Regions from separate parts of the Homo sapiens genome. Here all the other regions are linked to region 3. Evidence: fine-mapped expression QTL. A gene starts in region 3. Each other region holds a variant in brackets. All regions are shown on one strand. Distances are from middle to middle.

The links. PIP is the estimated chance that this variant, and not a neighbour inherited with it, causes the effect.
Region 1: its variant is the best candidate, but not a certain one, in a credible set for the expression of CPAMD8 in whole blood (TOPMed, PIP 0.57).
Region 2: its variant is the best candidate, but not a certain one, in a credible set for the expression of CPAMD8 in fibroblasts (GTEx, PIP 0.85).

What each region holds. Positions count from the first base shown.
Region 1 is chr19:16,951,207-16,959,384 of GRCh38, forward strand. It overlaps CPAMD8 (C3 and PZP like alpha-2-macroglobulin domain containing 8), which reads right to left. Exons shown (of 42, transcript NM_015692.5): 19 at 6,647-6,709; 20 at 763-994. Among named protein-coding and RNA genes, the nearest start is that of F2RL3, 66 kb to the left of the region's middle. RefSeq lists an enhancer at 505-1,068. The variant T/C (reference allele first, on the strand shown) is at 4,045.
Region 2 is chr19:16,903,524-16,911,701 of GRCh38, forward strand. It overlaps CPAMD8 (C3 and PZP like alpha-2-macroglobulin domain containing 8), which reads right to left. Exons shown (of 42, transcript NM_015692.5): 30 at 3,429-3,594; 31 at 943-1,029; 32 at 703-839; 33 at 179-334; 34 at 38-100. It also overlaps the pseudogene RN7SL835P and the pseudogene RN7SL823P. Among named protein-coding and RNA genes, the nearest start is that of F2RL3, 19 kb to the left of the region's middle. The variant C/T (reference allele first, on the strand shown) is at 3,921.
Region 3 is chr19:17,022,978-17,031,155 of GRCh38, forward strand. It overlaps CPAMD8 (C3 and PZP like alpha-2-macroglobulin domain containing 8), which reads right to left and starts at 3,833. Exons shown (of 42, transcript NM_015692.5): 1 at 3,574-3,833. The coding sequence starts at 3,665. RefSeq lists an enhancer at 4,005-4,913.

The DNA of each region.
Region 1 (8,178 bases), 72 kb before region 3:
CCGGGATCCCAAGCACCCTCTCTGTTCACCACCAGGATTTCCTGGTACTTTGTGGGGAGCCTGTGAATTAAGACCCATAGGCCAAACCGGATCCACCACCTGTCTTTTGGGCCCACAAGCTAAAGATGGTTTTCATCTTTTTCAAATGGTTAGGAGGAAAAAAAATTAAAAGAAGAATGATTATTTTGTGACAGGTGAAAATTCTATGGAGTTCGGATTTCAGTGTCTAGAAATCAAGTTTTATTGGAACACAGCCATATCTATTCAGGTAAGAGATCATCTAGGTTGCTTTTATGCTATAAGGGCTGAGTTGAGTCGCTGCCACAGGGATTGTGTGGCTGGCAAAGACAGAAATATTTCCTATCTGGCCCTTTACAGAGAAAGCTCCATGCTATCATATATGATACCAGTCCAGGCACGCCCTTGCTAGGCCAGGGAGTCAGGGACAACAGCTCCACTTACACCAAGTCCCTCTCACTCACACACATGCGTCCCCACCTCCTCCTCACCCGGCTTTGACGGTTGGTGAATCAGAGGCTGATCTCATCCCACTCCTGCCTCCCTGACAGCACAGATGACGCATCCTCCCCAAAGCCCCCCAGGCTGAGCCCACCCATCCCTGCCTCCTCAACATCATAGAGGCTCTCGCCCTCCTAAATCCCCCAAGCTGACACTGTCCCACCCCTGCCTACCTTATAGCACCAATGCAGTCCCAACTCCCCACTGAATGGAGGAAGGCTATGTATTTGGGGGGCTGAGTACCTCAGCGCAGGTGCCCATGTAGTTGTAGACACTGAGCGGGATCTTGACCTGCTCCCCACGGATGATGAGAGCGGGGAGCATGAAGTCCACGAAGAAGGGCTTGAAGGTCTTCAGCAGGGAGGGCTCGGCGATGCCTAAGCCCTGAGAGGTGGACAGGGCCACGGCCTCACCCACCCAGCTGGTGATGGAGTCCGGGACCTTCACACTGAGTGTCCCCTCACCAGATGGGTCACTGCGGAGAGACAGACAGCCATGATGGGGGGCCCTTCTCCAGGGCCATGCCTCAGGGGGGCCAGTGGGCATGGATGACCCAGGCTGCATGGCTCAGAGAGGCACCCTAGGAGCTTAGAAACAAGCATTGAAGGCATCACAAAAGCGGCAACAGGAAAAAAACTGTCCCTCAGCCCTGACTCTAATAGAAAACATGGGCTGGGCGCAGTGGCTCATGCCTGTAATACCAGCACTCTGAGAGGCCGAGGTGGGAGACTGCCCGAGCCCAGGAGTTCCGGACCACCCTAGGCAAGATGATGAGACCGTGTTGCTACAAAAAATTTAAAAATTAGGTGGGTATAGTGACACATGCCTGTAGGCCCAGCTACTCAGGAGGCTGAAGTGGGGGATTCACTTGAGCCCAGGTGGTCGAGGGTGCAGTGAGCTGTGATCCCGCCACTGCAGTCCAGCCTCAGCAACAGAGTGAGATCCCTGTCACACACACACAAAAATATTATTGAAAGAAACTAAAAAAGACAAAAAAAGACATAAATAAATGAAAACATTTCCCATGTTCATGGATCGGAAAGACTTGTTAAAATGTCAAAACTACCCAAAGTGATCTATAGATTCAATGGAACCCCTATCATAAACCCCAATGACTTTTTATTTTATTTTATTTTGCAGAAATAGAAAACTCCACCTTGAGATTTTACATGGATCTCAAGGGATCCTGGTGGCCAAACAAAGAAACCAGAAGAATAAAGCTGGAGAGCTCACACTTCAAAACTTACCACAAAGCTACCATATTCAAATCAATGTGTTACTGGCATAAAGACAGACATACAGACCAATGGAATCAAATAGAGAGCCCAGGAATAAACCTTGACGACACAGATAAATGATTTTTGACAAGGGCATCAAGATACTTTAGGGAAAAGACAATCTTTTTAACAAATACTGCTAGAAAAAGCAAACATCCATATGCAAAAGAATGAATTTGGACCTTACCTAACACCATATACAAAAGTTAACTCAAAATGAATCCATGACTTGAAAGTAAAAACTAAAACTATAAAACTCTTAGAAGAAAACAGGGCAAAAGCTTCATGACATTGGGTTTGACAATGATTTCATGGATATGAAAACAAAGGTACAAGCAAAAAAAAAAAAAAAAGAGTAGACAAGTTGGACTTTATGAAAACTGCAAAATTTTGAGCATCAAAAGACACTATTCAAGGGCTGGCATGGTAGCTTACTCCTGTAATCCCAGCACTTTGGGAGGCCAAGGAAGGAGGATCACTTGAGCCCAGGAGTTTGAGACCAGCCTGAGCAACACAGCAAGACCCTATCTTTACAAAAAATTAAAAAATTTAGCCAGGAGTGGTGGTGTGTACCTGTAGACCCAGCTACTTGGGAGGCTGAGGTTGGGGGATCACTTGAACACCTGGGTGACAGAGTGAGACCTTGTCTCAAAAAAAAAAAAAAAAAAGGCACTATCAACAGAGTAAAAAGTCAACCCAGTGGGAGAAAATATTTGCAAGTCATATATCTGATAAGGAAATAATATCCAGAATATATAGAGAACTCCTGAAACTCAATAACAAAAACAGCAACATGATTCAAAAATGGGCAAATTACTTGAATAGACATTTCACCAAAGAAGATAGACAAATGACTGATAAATACATGAAAGATGCTCAACATCACTAATCATTAGGGAAATGCAAATAAAAACCACAATGAGATGCCACTTCATGTACTTAATTAGGATATTAAAAAAGAAAAGGCAAGAAAAAAGGCTGGGCATGGTGGCTCACACCTATAATCCCAGCACTTTGGGAGGCCGAGGTGGGTGGATCACTTGAGGTCAGGAGTCTGGCCATTGTGAATAACGCTGTGAACATGGGTATACAAATATCCCTTTGAGACCCTGCTTCCCATTCTTTTGGGTATACACCCAGAAGTAGTGGGTGAAACCCCGTCTCTACTAAAAATACGAAAATTAGCCAGGTGTGGTGGTGCGTGTCTGTAGTTCCAGCTATTTGGGAGGCTGAGGCAGGAGAATTGTGTGAACCTGGGAGGCGGAGGGTGCAGTGAGCTGAGATTGCACCACTGCACTCCTGCCTGGGTGACAGAGCGAGACTCTATCTCAAAAAAAAAAAAAAAGAAAAGAAAGAAAAAGAGAACAGCAAGTGTTTCTGAGGATGTGGTAAGATTGGAACCCTGGTACACTGTTAGTAGAAATGTAAAACGCTGCAGCTGCTGTGGAAATTAGTCTGGAGGTTCCTTAAAAAATTAAACATAAAATTACCACATGATTCAGCAATTCTACTTCTGGGTATACACCCAAAAGAATGGGAAGCAGGGTCTCAAAGGGATATTTGTATACCCCTGTTCACAGCATTATTCACAATAGCCAAAAGGTGGAAGCAACTCAAGGGTCCATCGACAGAAAATAAATGGATAAACAAAATGAGGGAATCCATGCAATAGGATATTATTCAACCTTAAAAGGGAAGGAGGCTGGGTACAGTGGCTCACGCCTGTAATCCCAGCACTTTGGGAGGCCGAGGGGGGTGGATCACGAGGTCAGGAAATCGAGATCATCCTGGTCAACATGGTGAAACCCCATCTCTACTAAAATACAAAAAATTAGCTAGGCATTGGCTGGGCACGGTGGCTCATGCCTGCAATCCCAGCACTTTGGGAGGCCGAGGCGGGCGGATCACGAGGTCAGGAGATCGATACCATCCTGGGTAACACGGTGAAACCCCGTCTCTACTAAAAATACAAAAAATTAGCAGGGCATGGTGGTGGGCGGCTGTGGTCCCAGCTACTCAGGAGGCTGAGGCAGGAGAATGGCGTGAACCCAGGAGGCAGAGTTTGCAGTGAGCCGAGATCGCACCACTGCACTCCAGCCTGGGCAACAGAGCAAGATGCTGTCTCACACACAAACACACAAAAATAGCTGGGCATGGTGGCGCATGCCTATAGTCCCAGCTATTTGGAAGGTTAAGGCAGAGGAATCACTTGAACCCTGGAGGCAGAGGTTGCAGTGAGCCGAGATTG[T/C]GCCACTGCACTCCAGCCTGGTGACAGAGCAAGACTCCATCTCAAGAAAAAAAAAAAAAAGAGAGAAGGAAATTCTGACATGGATTCTCCAACAAAGATGAACCTTGGGGACATGTTGAAATAAGCCAGTCACAAAACGACAAATACTACATGATTCCACTTACAGGCGGTCCCTAGAATAGTCAAACTCAGAGACAGAAAGGGTTGTTACCAAAGGCTGGGGGAAGGGAAGAGAGGGGAGTGAGTGTTTAATGGGACAGAGTGTCAGTTTTGTAAGATGAAAGGAGTCACAGAAATGGGTGATGGTGATGTTGGCACAATAACGTGAGTGTCCTTAATACCACTGAACTATACACTTAAAAATGGTTAAGATCGTAAATTTTATGTGGAGTATTTCACCATAATTTTTTAAACCAATTCATTTTTGAATCATTTTCCCTTTTTGAGACAGGGTCTCACTCTGTAGCCCAGGCTGGAGTGCAGTGGTGTAATTTCGTGTCACTGCAGCCTCAACCTCCTGGGCTCAAGCGATCCTCCCACTTCAGCTTCCCAAGTAGCTAGGACCACAAGCATGTGCCACCACACCTGGCTAATTTAAAAATTTTTTTTAGAGATGGGGCCTTGCTATGTTGCCCAGGCTGGTCTTGAACTCCTGGGCTCAAGCAATCCTCCTGCCTCAGCCTCTCAAAGTGCTGGGATTACAGGCATAAGCCACCACACCCCGCCTTTAAACGGGTGTGGTTTAAAAGAGAGTTGACCAGTCCTCTTTTGGGTCCAGCAGGAACCTCCTCCCTGGTCTCAGATCTGTCCCCTCTGATTCATCCTTGCTCCAGCCAACAAGAGAGGAGAGAGAACATCCCGAATCCTAAATCCCAAATCCCTGGCTCTCCACACCTGCACCCCTAACCCCACCCCCACAGCCCACATGGTCTCATACTCCCTGCATCCTCCTCAGCTCCTTCCATCTCATTTCAACCATGTGGAAATCCACCAGCCTCTCCTACTTTGCAGCACTTGCTCATGCTGGTCCTTCCTGGACACCCTTCCCTTTCTTGCTTATTCATATGGTGGGACTCAGCTTGGGCCCTACATTGAGGACCCTCTCTGGCTTTTCCAAAGGATTCCACCATCTTTCTCTGCCTCCCAAGCTCCATGCCCAGCCTTCCAGAAGACTAACCCCACTGCACCATGATGGCTCTTTAGGCACCTGTCTACTCTAGCTACAATGAAAATGTTATGAGTGCTGGGACTCTGTCTACCTTATTCAAGGGACCATCCTTAACATCAAAAACATCCGGGCCAGGAGCAGTAGCTCACACCTGTAATTCTAACACGTTGAGAGGCCAAGACAGGAAGATCACTTGAGGCCAGGAGTTTCAGACCAGCCTGGGCAACATACAGAGACCCCATCTCTATGAAATATTTTTTTTTTTTTGAGACGGAGTCTTGCTCTGTCACCCAGGCTGGAGAGCAGTGGCGCCATCTTGGCTCACTGCAACCTCCGTCTCCCAGGTTCATGCCACTCTCTTACCTCAGCCTCCCGAGTAGCTGGGACTACAGGCGCCCGCCACCATGCCCAGCTATTTTTTGCGTTTTTAGTAGAGACAGGGTTTCACCATGTTAGAGAGGGTGGTCTCGATCTCCTGATCTCGTGATCCACCTGCCTCAGCCTCCCAAAGTGCTGGGATTACAGGCATGAGCTACCATGCCCAGCCCTAATAAAAGTTAATTGAAAAAATTTTTTAACAATAAAAAAAGCTCACCAGACATCCAGAAAGTAGATACATTTGAATGATGATGGACAGATAGCCTGTCTTACAGCTGGGCCCCCAGAACAAAACACAGTGAACTGGATGTGTTCTGATCAGCAGTCAAACCTTCCCACGATGAGGACATACACATCCCCCAAAGCAGTCTGAGGGGCCCCCAGCTGCGTGCCTGGCTCTGCCAAGCACTTGCCACAGCACCTTGTGCCTGGAGGAAGGGCACAGCTCCAGCAGTCAGCCCACCTGCTGGCCCGGGCTGGACCAAGAGTCAGTTTTCATGCCAAACTGGTTTGCCGGGGCACGCCAGTGCCACTTTTTACTAGTGTCATTGGTGCTCTAACGCTGAGCATTGCAAGAAAAAAAGTCAATTGCATCCAGCAGAAAAGGGTTGCCTACACTCCTGCTTCAAAGAGAACTAAACGGGGAAAAATGCAGAAAGGAAATGTGTTGAGAAAGGCATCCTGTTTTTTGAGCAAGAGCTGTAGTCCCCTGAGGAGCAAGGAGTGGGGGTAGGTGGAGTCAAGTTCATGTTCCAGGGAACTGTAATCATTTTAATGAGCTCGTTATACAAACAGAGCAGATAGAGTAACCCCAAGAGGGAGTTATAAGAGGCACAAAGCCCTTGCATTTCATATTTCACAGGCAAACGTCCAAATGTGCAGCGGGACTCAAGGCTGGCTTCATGGCTTGAAGTTTTGTGTGTTAGAAAAAGATGCACAGTGTCTTGCTCAGATGTTGGTATCAGGCCTGCCCATCTCACCGGAGGCTCTCTGGACCCGCATGAGTGTCTTTCACTCAACCGGCAAAGTCAGCGCAGAAAAGAAATCTTAATGTACCTGATGTTGAGACAATGCCAAATCCATGTTTCGGGGAAGAAAGTCCTTTTTCTCTTCTCTGTTCTATGAAAAGAAAAAAAGAAACGATTAAGGTTTCATGAACATAACAAATCTTATGTGAACCTAGCAGCTTTGCATTCTATTTGATCAGATATAACGCGTTAATTTCTTTTACCTGGAAGGGTTAACATTGTACTTCACTGGGATATAACATGTTAATTCTCTTACCTGGCAGGGTTAACAGTCTACTTGATTAGGACATAACTTGTTTTTTTAAAAACTTTATTTTAGGTTCAGAAGTACATGTGCAGGTCTGTTACATAGGTAAATGTGTGTCATGGGGGTTTGTTGTACAGATTATTTCATCACCCAGATACTAAGCCTATGCCCAATAGTTATTATTTCTGATCCTCTCTGTCTTCCCATCCCCCATCCTCAAGTAGACCTGTGTCTGTTCCCCCTTTTGTTTCCATGTGTTCTCATCATTTAGCTTCCACTTATAAGTGAGAACATGCAGTATTTGGTTTTCTGTTCCTGCATTAGTTTGCTAAGGATAATGGGCTCCAGCTCCATCCATGTTTCCACAAAAGACATGATTTTGTTCTTTTTTATGGCTGCATAGTATTCCATGGTATTTCTGTACCACATTTTATTTATCCAATCTGTCATTGATGAGCATTTAGGTTGATTCCAGGTCTTTGCTATTGTAAATAGTGCTGCAGTGAACATTTGTGTGCATGGGTCTTTATGGTAGAATGATTTATATTCCTTTGAGTATATACTCAGTAATGGGATTGCTGGCTCAAATGGTAGTACTGTTTTTAGTTCTTTGAGCAATCACCACACTGCTTTCCACAATGGTTGAACTAATTTACACTCCCATCAACTATGCATAGCATCCCCTTTTCTCCACTACCTCACCAACATCTGTTATTTTTTTACTTTTTTTTTCTTTTTTTTTTTTGAGATGGAGTTTCCTTCTTGTCACCCAGGCTGGAGTGCAATGGCACAATCTCAGCTCACTGCAACATCTGCCTCCCAGGTTCAAACGATTCTCCAGCCTCAGCCTCCCGAGTAGCTAGGATTACAGGCGCCTGCCACTACACCCAGCTAATTTTGTATTTTTAGTAGAGACGCAGTTTCACCATGTTGGTCAGGCTGGTCTCAAAATCCTGACCTCAGGTGATCCACCTGCCTCGGCCTCCCAAAGTTCTGGAATTACAGGCATGAGCCACCACACTCAGCTTATTTGTTGACTCTTTAATAATGGCCATTCTGACTGGCATGAGATGGCATCTCATTGTGGTTTTGATTTGCATTTCCCTTTTTTTTTTTTTTTGAGATGGAGTCTTGCTCTGTCACCCAGGCTGGAGTGCAGTGGTGCAATCTCTGCTCACTGCAACCTCCACCTCCCAGGTTCAAGTGATTCTCATGCCTCAGCCTCCTGAATTACACCTGGAATTGCAGGTGTGCCACCACGCCCGGCTAATTTTTGTATTTTTAGTAGAGATGGGGTTTTGTCATGTTGACCA
Region 2 (8,178 bases), 120 kb before region 3:
CAAGCCCAAGATCACCTCGTGCTCCCCAAAACCTCACCTGCATCAGGCAGCAGCCGTCCCCCTTGGCACTCACAAACAGCCCCGTGGGGAGGCTGGGGATCTGGAGACAGAAGTCACCGTGAGGCCCTGCTGACCCCTCCTCCAACAACCCCCAAACCCTCATCCCAGGAACACGCACCGCTGCTGTCTGCAGAACCTTCTGGTTGGTCCTGTGCAGCTCGAAGGTTTCCTGGTAGTCCAGGTTGGTGGAGGCCAGGGAGACAGTGAGGTTGATGCCTCCAGCATAGGACAAGATGGCATATTCAGCCAAGGCCTGCAGAGCCACGCAGGTGTCCTGGGGATGGAGGAGGAGACGGCCATCAACCCTGAGACTGAGTTGGCCAGTGGTCCCCTGAACCCCGTCTTGGAAGCCTAGCCTAAAACAGGCACCAACGGGGCTGGAATAGAGACTGGACCCAGTGCAGACACCCATGGCACTGGGGGCCTCAGGACAGCCAGGTTGGTGTGTCCCCAGAGGCAGAGGCTGGGCTCCCATGGGGGATCCAGGGGCATCTGTCCCTCACCCCCAACCCCTGCCCTCTTTGGGGCTCCATAAGGTGAGAAGGGGCCAGACTGCCTGGCCACCTCAGAGCTCAAAACAAGGACTGCAGGGACCCCACCCACCCAGCCCTGAGCCCCTCCCTCTGGCCCTGCCCGGCTCGCCTGAGTGGAGGAGAAGCCCCCAAGTGCATTTCGCTGCTGGGACAGCCACTTCACCACAGGCAGGGCGGCAGCCACGTCACCCAGCAGAGTGTAGGTCAGAAGGGCGTAGGCTGTCATTTCCACCTCGGCCGAGACCACTGCAATGGAAGAGGCCCACTGGGGACTTTTGACACAGGGACATGGACCCAGTGCATGGAGGTATGGCCAAGGCAGGCACCCGGGAGCTGGGGTGGCCAGTACCTGACTGAGAGACCCTGTCACTGAAGCTCAAGAATGTGCCCTTGTCCACGTCCCAGGAATTTGACAGGCTCCAGTGGGTGACCCCATCTGCAAGGAAAGGAGTGGTCAAGAGCTATAACCCACCCAGTGTGTAGCCTGGCATCCCATGGAGCGCATCCAAGCATGGGGTCTAAAGAAAAGGTATTGTGGGACCCCAGTGGGAGAAGAGTATCAGGGGAAGACAGCTGGAACAGGAAGGGCCTTGGGGCTCCATCTCAGATCTGCAAACCTATGGCAGCCCCAGCCCTTCCTGTGCCCCTGGCAGACATCGTGAATCAATGGCTACCCAACCTTACCCCTGGCAGACATCACTAATCAAAGGCCACCTTCCCCTTCCTGGACACAGACATCACTAGTCAATAGCCTCCCTCCTGACCAGGTACTGATCCAGCCCCTGATGTTCCTACTTAGTGCCCAAGCAGCCACACTCGACTTGCAAAGGCTCAAAGATTCTGGCCAGGCACAGTGGCTCACGCCTGTAATCCGAGCACTTTGGGAGGCTGAGGTGAGTGGCTCATTTGAGGTCAGGAGTTCAAGACCAGCCTGGCCAACATGGTGAAATCCCATCTCTACTAAAAATACAAAAATTAGCTGTGTGTGGTGGTGCACACCTGTAATCCTAGCTACTCAGGAGGCTGAGGCAGGAGAATTGCTTGAACCCAGAAGGCAGAGGTTGCAGTGAGCCAATACCGAGCCACTGCACTCCACACTCCAGCCTGGGTGACAGAGTGAGACTGTCTCAATAAATAAATAAATACATAAATAAAAATAATAATAATAATTTAAAAAGAATGGCAAGGCACGGTGGCTCATGCCTGTAATCCCAGCACTTTGGGAGGCTGAGGCAGGCGGATCACCTGAGGTCAGGAGTTCGAGACCAGCCTGACTAACATGGAGAAACTCATCTCTACTAAAAAATACAAAAAATTAGCTGGGCATGGTGGTGCATGCCTGTAATCCTGGCTACTTGGGAGGCTGAGTTAGGAGATCACGCCATTGCACTCCAGCCTGGGCAACAAGAGCGAAACTCCGTTTCAAAAAAAAAAAAAAAAAAAGGAAGAAAAGAAAAAAAAAAAAAAAAAGAAAAAGGCTCCAAGGATTCTGAGCTCGCATGAGGTGTAAAGACTCTCAAATCCAGAGAGAAACCAGCCCACCACCACCACCTCCCACTCCATCCCTGGATCCTCTTTAAACTTTTTTCTTTCGGAAGCAATGAAAACAATTCTTCAGGTGGCATCTTAATGCTTAAGCAGAGAAACCTGTCTGAGCCCCAGTGCAGCTGCTGGGGGTAGGGGTGGAGTGGGGAGGTCTGGGTGAAGTAGGAGGAGACTAAGTTTGGGGGCATTCTGAGAAAGTCAAAGCTCAGGGATTGGAGTCCCAGTGGGGTGATGATTTTGTAGGTGGGGAGACTGACAGCTCAAAAAAGCTTTCCAGGGCTCACTCAGCAAGTGGAGGGAAGGGTGGAAGCGAGACCCAACCCTCCCCTGTCTCCCAGCACCCCTGTCCTGGGATGATTTCCAGGAAGCCTGGCCGGAGGCGGGGGATGCGTTCTCTGCTGGGGATCCCTCTCTGAGAACTCCCCTTCCAGAGGGGTTGGCATCCCAGATTTCACAGGCAAGGAAAGTGATGCTTGGGGCTGGTGTGACTTGGACAAGCCACTTCCTCAAATAAAGTCACTAGCAGATGCGATAATGAATGAATACTATAATCAACAAAGCAATTGACAAGCAAAAGGCATCTCGTCAGTTTCCCTTTCTCCTTCCTTCCTTCCTTTCTTCCTCTCCCTCCCTCCCTCCCTCTCTCTCTTCTCTCCCTCCTTCCTTCCTTCTTTCCCTTTCTTTCTTTCTTTCTTTCTTTCTTTCTTTCTTTCTTTCTTTCTTTCTTTCTTTCTTTCTTTCTTTCTTTCCTTCCTTCCTTCCTTCCTTCCTTCCTTCTTTTCTTTCTCTTTCTTTCTAATGGCATTATCTCAGCTCACTGCAACCTCTGCCTCCTGGGTTCAAGTGATTCTTGTGCCTCAGCCTCCCGAGTAGCTGGGGTTATAGGCACCTGCCACCACACCCAGCTAATTTTTGTATTTTTAGGAGAGACGGGGTTTCACCATATTGGCCCGGCTGGTCTCGAACTCCTGGCCTCAAGTGATCTGCCCAAAGTGCTGGAATTACAGGCGTGAGCCACCGCGCCTGGTCGACTCATCAGTTTTTTGTTTTGTTTTGTTTTGTTTTTGAGACGGAGTCTTGCTCTGTTACCCAGGCTGGAGTGCAATGGCGCGATCTCTGCTCACTGCAATCTCCGCCTCCCGGGTTCAAGCGATTCTCCTGCCTCAGCCTCCTGAGTAGCTGGGACTACATGACTCGTCAGTTGTGATAAATATGTTCATGAGTTGTTTACCAGACTCCACAGTGGGCTTCCCGACGCTGTGGCCTCTGGGGAGGGCCAGGGACACCTACCTCGCATGATGGCCAGGCTACGGAGCTTGCGCAGTGCCTCAGGGGCTGCCGGGCTGCGGAGCAGGGTCAGCGCGTAGGTAGTCAGGGCACAGCTATAAGGGTCCATGGCCAGGGGCGCAGCAGACTCCAGGAAGTGCCTCGCTTTGTCAGTGGAGCCTCTCTCCTCCTGCAGGGTGGGGTGGGAAGGTGAAACCTGGGAGGCTGCTCTGCCCCCATCCCACCCACCCACTGGCTTCTGAGGCATCCCCGAGGAGAGCTCTGGGTGACTCCTAGCCCCTTGCTTTGCATCCTTCTGTGGCTCTCACTGCCTGCAGACCCAATTTTCAAACCCCATCTCCTTTCTTTTCTTTCTTGCCTTTTTTTTTTTTTTTTTTTTTTGGTAATAGGCTGGGCGCAATGTAATCCCAGCACTTTGGGAGGCCAAGGTGGGTGGATCACCTGAGGTCAGGAGTTTGAGACCACCCTGGCCAACATGGTGAAACCCCATCTCTA[C/T]TAAAAATACAAAAATTAGCTGGGCATGGTGGCACATGCCTTTAATCCCAGCTACTTGGGAGGCTGAGGTAGGAGAACTGCTTGAACCAGGGAGTTGGAGGTTGCAGTGAGCCAATATCGCGCCACTGCACTCCAGCCTGGCAACAGAGTGAGGCTCCGTCTCAAAAAAAAAAAAAAAAATACAGACAGCATCTTACTCTGTTGCCCAGGCTGGAGTGCAGTGGCACGATCATAGCTCACTGAAACCTTCACTTCCTGGGCTTAAGCGATCCTCCCGCCTTGACCTCCCCAGTAACTGGGACTACAGGTGCACACCAGCACGCCCAGCTAACATTTTATTTTTTGTAGAGATGGAGTCTCACTATGTTGCCCAGGCTGGTCACACATTCTTGGGCTCAAGCGAGCCTCCCACCTTGGCTTCCCAAAGAGCTGGGATTACAGGAGTGAGCCACTGCCCCTGGCTCCCATTACCATTCTTGTAAGTTGGCACTCCTTTTTCCAAATGAGGTCTGGCCAGGATGCCCAAGTGCATGGCAAATGAGCACAGTGATACTCTAGGGGAAGCAGGCAGAGTCCTGGCCACCCTGTCCCACCCAGCCCCATGGCCAGGTCTTTGTTAAGACAGCTAGCTAAGGCCAGGTACAGTGGCTCATGCCTGTAATCCCAGCACTTTGGGAGGCCGAGGTGGGCAGATCACTTGAGGTCAGGAGTTCAAGACCAGCCTGGCCAACATGGTGAAATTCCATCTCTATTAAAAATACAAAAATTAGCCAGGCGTGGTGGTGGGCGCCTATAATCCAAGCTATTCAGAAGGCTGAGGCAGGCACAAGAATCCCTTGAACCCGAGAGGCAGAGGTTGCAGTGAGCCGAGATTGCACCACCGCACTCCAGCCTGGGCAACAGAGTGAGACCTCATCTTAAAAAAAAAAAAAATAATAGAAATAAAAAGCTGGCTCCTAAGACCTCCACAGCCCAGGCCCTCCCCAGCCTCCAGGCCTGGTCACCTCCTTAGAGAAGCCCACCAGCCCTGCTCATGCCCTCCCTAGAATGTGATCTGTTGGAAGACAGGGACCAAGTCCAGAATCTACTGATGGTTTTGGTTCAGAGAAGCTGCCCAATAATATTATGTGGAAGAAATGAGTGACCAGAAGCATTAACAAATTTAGCAATGGAACCAGAGTCTTCTGGTGGCCCAATAGAGGTATGGAGTTGAGCTAACTCTGCTTTCGGAACTGTCCTGGTCATAGAAAGAATGTTTCCAAAGCTTTCCATCCTTAGACCAGGACAAACGTGGGAACTGTCCCTAAGGTGTGACATTGAGATGCCCTTTGGGAGGCATGTGCCAGGGATGAACCCGGCTGACTAGCCAGACCCTAGGACTGGCCCTCACAAGTCCATTGCCTGGGGGTGGGGGAAGGTTGGACATCCCCATCCCAGGGGCAGGAACAGTGACATGGGAGTTACCCCAGGTCACGCGGGCCAGGACGGGTCTCAAGGACGCTGCGGAGACCACACCAAGCAGGGATGGACCCAGCCCGGCCCCAGCTGTGCAGATCCTCCCGTTTACAGACAAGCGGATGCAACGGAACTCCAAGGGGTCAAGGTCATTTGCTGGTTGCCCCCCAGCTCATCTGATTCCAGCACAGGTGTAGCGGGTTGAACGGTGGCCCACCAAAAAGATATATTCCCTGGGACCTGTAAATGCTGACTTATTTAGGAAATGGGTCTTTGCAGATGTAATTAAGAGTCTTGAGATGAGATCACCTTGGATTAAGGTGGCCTCAAATCCAATGACAAATATCTTTAAAAAATTTTTTTTGGCTGGGCACGGTGGCTCACGCCTGTAATCCCAGCACTTTGTGAGGCCGAGGCAGGTGGATCATGAGATCAGGAGATCGAGACCATCCTGGCTAACATGGTGAAACCCCATCTCTACTAAAAATACAAAAAATTAGCTGGGCGTGGTGGCGAGCGCCTGTAGATCCAGCTACTCAGGAGGCTGAGGTGGAAGAATGGCATGAACCTGGGAGGCGGAGCTTGCAATGAGCCGAGATCGCGCCACTGTACTCCAGCCTGGGCAACAGAGCGAGACTCCATCTCAAAAAGGGAAAACAAACAAACAAACAAACCCATCTCTACTAAAAATACAAAAATAGCCAGGCATGGTGGCCCATGCCTGTAATCCCAGCTACTTGGGAGGCTGAGGCAGGAGAATCCTTGAACCCGGGAGGCAGAGGTTGCAGTGAACTGAGATCGCTCCATTGCACTCCAGCCTAGGCAATAAGAGCGAAACTTCGTCTCAAAAAAAAAAAATTTGTATTAGAGACAGAGGTTTCACTGTTACTCAGTGTTACTCAGGCTGGAGTGTAGTGGCTATTCATAGGCACAATCCCACTGCTGATCGGCACGGGAGTTTTTGTTTGTTTTTAAAACAATCTCATACTGTCACCCAGGCTGGAGTGCAGTGGTGCAATCTTAACTCACTGCAACCTCCACCTTCCAGGTTCAAGCGATTCTCCTGCCTCAGCCTCCCGAGTAGCTGGGATTACAGGCACGTGCCATGGTGCCTGGCTGATTTTTGTACTTTTAGTAGAGATAAGCTTTTGCCATATTGGCCAGGCTGGTCTCGGACTCCTGGACCCATGTGATCCACCTGCCTCAGCCTCCCAAAGTGCTGAGATTATAGGCATGAGCCACTGTGCTTGGCGTCCAATGACAAGAACCTTTAACTTTTTTTTTTTTTGAGATGGAGTTTCACTCTTGTTGCCCATGCTGGAGTGCAATGGCGTGATCTCAGCTCACCGCAATCTCCGCCTCCCAGGTTCAAGCGATTCTTCTGCCTCAGCCTCCCGAGTAGCTGGGATTACAGGCATGCGCCATCACACCCAGCTAATTTTTGTATTTTCAGTAGAGACGGGGATTCTCCATGTTGGTCAGGCTGGTCTCGAACTCCCAACCTCAGGTGATCTGCCCGCCTCAGCCTCCCAAAGAGCTGGGATTACAGGCAGGAGCCACTGGGCCCGCCTTTTTTTTTTTTTTTTAAATTAGTGACAGGTCTCACTATGTTGCCCAGGCTGGAGTGCAGTGGCTATTCATACGCACGATCTCCCTACTGATCAGCACAGGAGTTTTGACCTGCTCCATTTCTGACCTGGGCCAGTTCATCCCTCTTTGGACAACTTGGTCATCCTGCTCTCAAGAGGTCACCATATTGATGCTGAACTTAGTGCAGACACTTGATTGGTGCAGTGCACTACAGCCCAGAACTCCTGGGTCAAGCAATCCTCCTGCCTCAGCCTCCCGAGTAGCTGGGACTACAGGAATGCCCTGCTGCACATGGCAACAAGTGTTGTTTAAGAGACGAGAAGGGGAGAAGACAGAGGAGAAGGTCACACGCAGACAAAGGCAGGGGCTAGAGTGATGCAGCCACAAGCCAAAGAATGCCTGGGGTCCCTGGAAGCTGGAGGCAGCAAAGAAAGCTCTTCCCTTAGAGCCTGCAGAGGGAGCAAGGGCCTGCCAATGCCTTGATTTTGCACTTCTGGTCTCCAAAGCAATGAGAATGTATTTCTGTTGTTTTAAGCCACCCAGTTTGTGGCAATTTGTTATGGCAGCCACAGGAAATGAAGACAGCAGGTTTTGCCTCCTTTGGGGAACGATCTAAGACAGGGGTCCCCAACCTCCGGGTCACAGACTGGTACCGGTTGGTGGCCTGTTAGGAAGGGGCTGCACAGCAGGAGGTGAGTGACAGGTGAGCCAGCAAAGCTTCATCTGTATTTACAGCCACTCCCTATCGCTTGTATTACCACCTGAGCTCCACCTCCCATCGGACCATCAGCAGCATTAGATTCTCGTGGGAGCATGAACCCTATTGTGAACTGTGAGCATGTGAGGCATTTGCTGGCAGACTCCTTTTTTTTTTGTTCTTTTTTTTTTTTTGAGACAGAGTCTGGCTTGGTTGCCCAGGCTGGAGTGCAGTGGCACGAGCTTGGCTCACTGCAACCTCTGCCTCCCAGGTTCAAGCGATTCTCCTGCCTCAGCCTCCCAAGTAGCTGGGACTTCAGGCATGCGCCACCACACAAGCTAATTTTTGTATTTTTATTTTTATTTTATTTTATTTTTTGAGACAGAGTCTGGCACTCTTGCCCGGGCTGGAGTGCAGTGGCACCATCTCGGCTCACGGCAAGCTCTGCCTCCCAGGTTCACGCCATTCTCCTGCCTCAGCCTCCCGAGTAGCTGGGACTACAGGCGCCTGCCACCA
Region 3 (8,178 bases):
GTCACCAGCCGCAACAGTGACAGACCAGGATTCTAACTCAGGCGGTCAGACTCCAAAACCTGATAAAAAGAAGCAAAGGGCTTCTTTGCAACATTCATTTTAAGAACAAACCCTGAAAACAAACCATAGGGCCTCAAACAAAAAGAGCTCTGAAAACAATGGAATCAAAGCAGGCCTCTCTTTCCTAAAATCTTCTGATTGACTATGAAGTCACCTCTGGAAGGGAGGCATTACCCCCAGTTTCCCCATGGGAAGTTGATGCTTCAGAAGAATAGGAACATGCACCAGATCACACAGCCAGGCAGAAGAGGGCACTGAGGTGCCCTTAGGGGACCTGACCTGAGGGCCCAGGTCCTCCCCACCTGAGCTCCTGTCTCCCAGTATCTGCAGCCTTCCATGGAAAATTACAAAGGCCCTGTAACCTCATGAAATGCTTACAGTGTCCCCACAATCACCAAGAGCATTATAGCAAAGGCACCACAATTGCAACCATGTAGAATGATGGAAATCAGAAGAAAAGAGGGTAAAGGGGGAAACTGGACCATGCAATGAGATTAGGAGACATTTTCATTTCAATATTTTCTTTTTTTATTTTTATTTATTTATTTATTTATTTTTAATTGAGACTGAGTCTTGCTCTGTTGCCCAGGCTGGAGTGCAGTGGTGTGATCTCAGCTCACTGTACCCTCCACCTCCCAGGTTCAAGGGATTCTTCTGCCTCAGCCTCCAGAGTAGCTGGGACTACAGGCGTGCACCACCACACCCAGCTAATTTTTGTATTTTTGGTAGAGACTGGGTTCCACCATGTTGGCCAGGCTGGTCTTGACCTCCTGACCTCAAGTGATCTGCGCACCTTGGCCTCCCAAAGTGCTGGGATTACAGGCCCACTGCACCTGGCCTCAATAGTGTCTCTAGAACAACCCAACATCCACATGCAAAAAGATGAATTGAGAACATTACCTCACACCATGCAATTAGATTAACTCAAAGTTAATCTTAGTAACAGATCTAAATTGAAGAAGTAAAACTTGTAGAAACACTAGAAGAAAACAAAGGAGAAAGTCATTGCATGCTTAGATTAGGCAAAGATTTCTTGAGTAAGATACCAAAAATAAGATCCATAAAATAACTCACTGATAAACCAAACTTCATGAAAACATCATTACCAATTTTGCATCTCAAAAGACGCAGTGGGTTTGTGTTGTTTCATGCACACGAACAATGGGTTTGGGTTGTTTACTGCAGCCCTGGCCACAGTGTGCACTGACCCTGTGATCATAGTGTGCTACATCTGCCTTGAATAATTACCAGAGTTCAGTCCCCTGGGATCACACATGTGCTGTCCAACTCTAGGACCAACTGGAGTTTGCAAGACCCTGGGTATGTGCTGTGTATTACATAACTCCAGCACTGACCAGGACATGCAATTACCCTGTCCAGGTGTCCTGTCCAGCTCCAGCACTGGAATGTGGCATCCTTTAAAAGGGGAATACTCTTTCTGTCTGGCTCCCAGCTGATCCCTAGAGTTTAGACGGGCCTCACATATAGTACATGGTGAGTGTAGAAGAGAGAGTAAGGAATACGTGTTCATTTTGCTTGGTCACCTTTGAAACTCCTGACAATACGGGTTCAAGTCTTCATCCAACTGCCCAGAGAAACTGACATCACCAAATTAAGTTTCCCTGCCATTCAGAAGTTGCAGCTGTTTCCAGCTGTTGGGATGCTTGCCAGCCATTCACTGTCACACCTGACCCACCCCTAGCATCTGGGCCAACACTGCTTCTCATCCTGCTGGTCTCAGAAGGTCCCAGATTGGGGAAAGGGATGTCTGGGTCAGTGTAGACAGAATTGCTCTTACAACTGCAAACTGTGCTGCTTTCTGGGATCAGAGATTCCTCACACAAAAATCTCTCAGGTGACAGAAGTGGGCATCCAGAGCTATTCCTAAGACGAGATCCTTTGGGCTGGGTGAACCATGCCCCTGGCTTAGAGGCCAGCTAATCTGGAATCCCAGGTCGGTCATTTGGGGACATCTCTTCCCCAGTGTGTCTCTCAGCACAGGGATTCCATGTCACTTAACAGATGGTAAGATCACAGGGTGACTTTAGTCAGAGGAAAACGCCCTGGAGAACTGTTTAAAACTCTCTAACGGGCCAGGCACGGTGACTCACGCCTCTAATCCCAGCACTTTGGGAGGCGGAGGTGGGTGGATCACCTGAGGTCAGGAGTTCCAGAACAGCCTGGCTAACATGGAGAAACCCCATCTCTATTAAAAATACAAAAAATTAGCCGGGTGTGGTGGCACACGCCTGTAATCCCAGCTACTCAGGAGGCTGAGGCAGGAGAGTCATTTGAACCTGGGAGGCGGAGGTTGCAGTAAGCCAAGATCGTGCCATTGCACTCCAGCCTGGGCAACAAGAGTAAAACTCCATCTCAAAACAAAAACAAAAACAAACCCCAAAAACAACAAACAACAAACAAAAACCTCTGTATAAGGCAGGGTCTCTCATTGGAGCCAAGGTCTGTCATGTGGGGCCGCGTCATTCCTTGCAGTGGAAGCTGACCTGCACATCGAAAGCTGTTTACCAGCATTCCTGGCCTGCACCCACTTAATGCCAACACCAAATGCCTCTCCCTATTTGTGACAACCAAAAATACCTCCAGACATTTCCCAGCGGCCTCAGGGAGACAAAAATCCCCCCCAGGGCTGAGAACCACTATTCTAAGGGATGCCAGCTTTGAAAGAAGCATTAGGATGAAAATTTGTAGGGTTCCGATTTCACGAAGCCTAGGAGAGGGAAGTCTGGATGCTCAGAGCGCAGTAGACTGTCTTGCTTTTAAAACTGTGACCAGCAAGGACCAACTACTCACTGCAAATAACGACACCCACCTAGTCTCACTGCTTACCAGTTTTCTGGAAACTCCTAAACAAGGGCTGCTTGAACAAGCCGCCTTCTAAACGCCCAGCTGGACTAAAAGGCTGGTCTTGTGCAGACCAGGGCAGCCCCCCTGAACCCGCAGCCCTGCAGAGCTCACCCGAACTTGCCAGGTTTAGAAATATTCTCTGTGAAGCCAACTTAGCAGTACTCCCCAGCAGTTAGTTAATTCACCTTCTCCCCGCTGTCAACCCACCAGAAGCCTGCAAGCAAACCTCTAGAAAAATGTAGAAGCAAAACAAACACTTCCTCCTCCCTCACCACGCCCACCCACGGGAAAGTGCCCCTTCGCACTCTCCTCCCACTTCTCAGCCAAGACGCTCCTCTTACCTTCATACCTTGGACAACTGGAAATCGCCACCCATGATGACAGCCCGGGTCACACGAAGGGGGCGAGGTGGGGCGGGGGGAGCTGACCTCAGCACCTTTAGCTTTTGGGAGTCCCTGTACCTCCACAGAGCCACTTCGGAAACTTTAGGGCGCCCCCTCCTCAAGACGATTCGGGAACAAGAGGCCAGGTCCAGCCCAGCGCGGAGGCTGTGTGGCCTTGGGCAGGTCGCTGCAACACTCTGAGCCAGTACCCGCGACCCCCACCCCAGAAGGCGACCGACCTCCTCTGTCGCCGGAGGATACTCACGGGGCCTGAGGCTGCGCGGCGCGCACGCCGTCCCGCGCCGACAGCAGCAGGAGCAGGAGCGGGAGCAACGGCCAGAGCAGGGCGCCGCTCATTTTTCGGCTCCTGGGGGGCGCCGCGCCTGGGGAGGGGGCCGGGCCAGGGCTGGGCCAGGGCCAGGGTCCGAGCGCGGCCGTCCTCGCGCCGCCGCCGGGGGCCCTTTGTTCGCAGCCCCCGCGCAGTGCGCCCGGCGCCATGCGCCCCGCTCCGCGCCCGGCCAAGCTGGGGCAGCCCCGGGCCAGCCCCCTCCCCGGACCCGCCTCGTCTCCGGGACCGCCCCGCTCGCCCCGCTCGCCCCGCTCCTGGGCGCACCCTCCCGGGACGCCTGCTCCGCCCATCTCCGGACCCCGACCCGCCCCGATCCCTTCCGGGGATCGTCCCCTCACTTACTCACCGGACCCACCCGGGCCCTGCCCGATTCCTTCCGAACCCGCCTCCTCACCCCCTACCCGGATTCGCCCCCGGATGCCCCCCTCCCCACCAGCCCCGCCTCGGACCCGACCCCCCACCGCCCCCACTCTCCCTCTCCTCTCCACCCAGCGTCCACTCGGAACCTGTCCCTTCCCTGGCCTCTCCCTCCCTCCCTCCCCAGCCAGCCCCTTATGGCCCCCTCCCCGGGCCCGCCCCTCACCAGGGGCCCCTGGGTCTGGACGCCGCCTGCAACCCCGATCCCACAGGCGCCGCCGTGCCCTAAGCCCTGGCCTGTATCTAGTGCCCAGTGCAGTGCGTACAGCCCAAGGAGCAGAGGACCCTTTGGGGAAACAGTCTAGCCAGGGGTCGAACCTCCCAGACTCACATCTGCCCCAGGTCCCTATCTGTGCTCTCTGCTCCCCTCTCCCCCACCCCCACTGTCCACAAATCCCTTGGGCCCGTCCCCTCTCTCGCTGGGCCTCAGAGTCCCCCTTTCCCCTTCATACAGCAGGGGTGGATGGGCACCCCCTTTCTCTCCAAGAGCAGGGTGTCCCCTCCTGCCCCTCCCCGTGTGGCCACCTCAGTGATGGTCCTGCTGTCCTAGGTCCCACTGGCAGGCGGCACATCCTATACCATGTCCAAGTCCTGGACCCCCTCCTTCCAGTGTGGAACCCCCTTCCCCCAGCTACCAACTGCCCTTCTTCTAAAATTCCAGTGCTGACCACACCCCCTCCTGCCCGGAATCCTCGGGGCTCCCTGTTTATTTTACATTTTATTTTTATGTTTTGAGACCAGAGTTTTGCTCTGTTGCCCAGGCAGGAATTTAGTGGTGCAGTCACAGCTCACTGCAGCTTCAGACTCCTGGAGAGTAGCTGGGACTACAGGTGCAAGCCCGCACCCAGCTAATTTTTATATATTTTTTTTTAGAAACGGAGTCGCACTGTGTTGCCCAGGCTGGTCTTGAGCACTGGGCTCAAATGATCCTCCCTCCTCAGCCTCCCAAAGTGCTGGGATTACAGGTGTGAGCCACCACATCCAGCCAGGGCTTCCCGTTTATTGAGACCAAATCTAAACTCTGGCTTTGATGGCAGAGACCTCAGCCTAGTTCCTCCAACACCCTGTTCTTACTCCACTGCCTGCTTCTGCCTAATCTCTGTCTTCCTCTACCTGCCTCCTTTGCCAGTCCAACTCCTGATCCTTCCAGGAAACTCAAGGGAAGCTTCTCTTGCCCCCTCCCTGCCCCTAGGGATGTGGGTCCTCTGGGGGCTTCTCAGCCCTGTCAACAGCCTTTGGACCCAACACTGATCACCCAGGCAGCACCAAGCCCTGGGCTGGGCAATGAGGACCCTGGGACATACAGGACCTGCTGCCACTGAGCACACAACCCAGAGGGGACGTAACTGATGATGGTGTGTTGGTGTGTGTGTGTGCGTGCACGCGCGCAGGGGCCGGAGTAGATTGAGTAGCCGTCTCTCCTGCCTGGAGAAGAGGAGGAGCTGCCTGCCTCCAAGCTCAGACCAGGCCAACCCCAAACAGGCTGCTAAACTCACATGGAGGTGCAAAAATCTAGCACCAAGAAGCAGCATCTGATCTCACCCTCATCATCGAAGTTTGCCCCATGCCACCCCTCCGGGCCCCTCCAGGCCAACTCTGACTCCTACCTAAGCCAACCTCCACTCCTCAGCCTCCAGGCCAGCCTTTGAGCCCTCCGCCTCCCCCTTGACCATTGGGCTCTGGCCACATTTGCTCCTGAGATACATCAGACCCCCACCCACCACCACCATCTTGGGCCAAGGTGCCAGCTGTCCCCTCTGCCTGGGATGCACTTCCCCGTGGCATCACAAGACCGGCTGCTCTCCTCCACCTTCAGGGTTAGCCCGGAGGTGCCTTCCCTGCCTGCCTGGTTTGTAAGGTCTAAAATGTCAGTGCTGCCTTGGCATGGTTGAGCCACACAGGACCACGATGTCCTGACCGACCGTTCAGCTACTCTTGCCAAATATGCCCCCTGCCTGGCAAGAGAAGCTGCTCTCCACCTGGCTGTCTCACCAAGCAACCAGACCAGCTGCACCCCACCCATCAGCCACAGACTTCACTTCCCTAGCTGCTGAGAAGTTATTGAAACAAGCCATGCCCAGTCGTGGTGGCTCATGCCTGTAATCCCAGTACTTTGGGAGGCCGAGGCAGGTGGATCACCTGAGGCCAGGAGTTCAAGACCAGCCTGGCCAACATGGTGAAACCTCATCTCTACTAAAAATACAAAAATTAGCCAGGTGTGGTGGTGCACACCTGTAATCCCAGCTACTCGGGAGGCTGAGGCAGGTGAATCACTTGAACCCAGGAGGTGGAGTTTGCAGTGAGCCGAGATTGCGCCACTGCACTCCAGCCTGGGTGACAGAGTGAGACTCCGTCTCAAAAAAAAAAAAAAAAAAAAAGAAAGAAAGAAACCAATCACATCCTCCCAGGAGAACCAGGGGCTGCCTCACCCTCTTATTACTACAAAGCCTGCTTCCCACAGCCCCTGCTTGTTCATTGTGCTCCCGAGTGCAACCCCTGTGTGGCCTCACACAGTGTACAGGGTCCTCCTCCCGTCATTGTGTGAGAATAGGTGAGCACTAAACTGTAGATCTCACCCACCCAATGTCACATGTTGTATGTTTGGCCATCTCATACTCTTTTTTTTTTTTTTTTGAGACGGAGTCTTGCTCTGTCGCCCAGGCTGGAGTGCAGTGGTGCGATCTTGGCTCGCTGCAAGCTCCGCATCCCGAGTTAACACTTTTCTCCTGCCTCAGCCTCCCAAGTAGCTGGGACTACAGGCACCCGCCACCACGCCCGGATAATTTTTTGTATTTTTAGTAGAGACGGGGCTTCACCATGTTAGCCAGGATAGTCTTGATCTCCTGACCTCGTGATCCGCCCTCCTGGGCCTCCCAAAGTGCTGGGATTACAGGAGTGAGCCACCGCGCCCGGCCTATTTTTTTTTTTTTTAACGGAGTCTCACTCTGTCACACAGGCTGGAGTGCAATGGCGTGATCTCAGCTCACTGCAACCTATGCCTCCCGGGTTCAAGCGATTCTCCTGCCTCAGCCTCCCAAGTAGCTGGGACTATAGGCGCCTGCCACCATGCCTGGCTAATTTTTGTATTTTTAGTAGAGACAGGGTTTCACCATGTTGCCCAGGCTGTTCTCGAACTCCTGACCTCATGTGATCCACCTGCCTTAGCCTCCCAAAGTCCTGGGATTACAGGCATGAGCCACTGTGCCGGGCCCATCTCATACTATTTAGAGCAGCAGTCCCCAACCTTTTTGGCACAAGGGACAGGTTTCATGGAAGACATTTTTTCCATGGACAAGGGGCAAGGTGATGGGAGGGACAGTGATGGTTTTGGGATGATCAAGTGCGTGACATTTATTGTGCACTTTATTTCTATTATTGTTACATTGTAATATAATGAAATAATGATACAACTCACCATCGCGTAGAATCAGTGGAAGCCCTGAGCTGTTGTTTTCCTGCAGCCAGAGATCCTACCTGGGGGTGATGGGAGACAGTGGCAGATTATCAGGCATTAGATTCTCATAAGGAGCATGCAACATAGATCCCTCGCATGCACAGTTTGTAATAGGGTTTGGGCTTCTCTGAGAATCTAATGCTGCCGCTGATCTGACAGGAGGTGGAGCTCGGGCGATAATGTGAGCGATGGGGAGAGGCTGTAAATACAGATGAAGCTTTGCTTACTCATCCAATATCAGACCAGTGTCAGTCTGTGGCCCAGGGGTTGGGGACCCTTGATTTAGATCATGGGTGAATAGGAGCCAATGAGGACACTAGCATGGCCCGGTCATCCAGTTTGACTGCATGGTACACAAAACACAGAGCATGGTCTTATTATTCCATACACATCTGCTTCCTGTCTGTCTTCTTTGGGATGTGAGCCCCCCGTTTGCTGCTGGCCGCAGCCCCTGGCTCAAAGTGGGCACACCTCACACAGATTACTGCCTCATCAGCACACGGGAGAAGGCTCGCTGCTTAGAAGAGTCAGTTGATACTATTCCATGAATTATACAAGCCTGAGTTAACAAAGCCATGACTAAAAACTAAATTATACCGATTTGCAATGAAACACATTATACAGGTTGAGTAGCCAAAATGCATTATCGG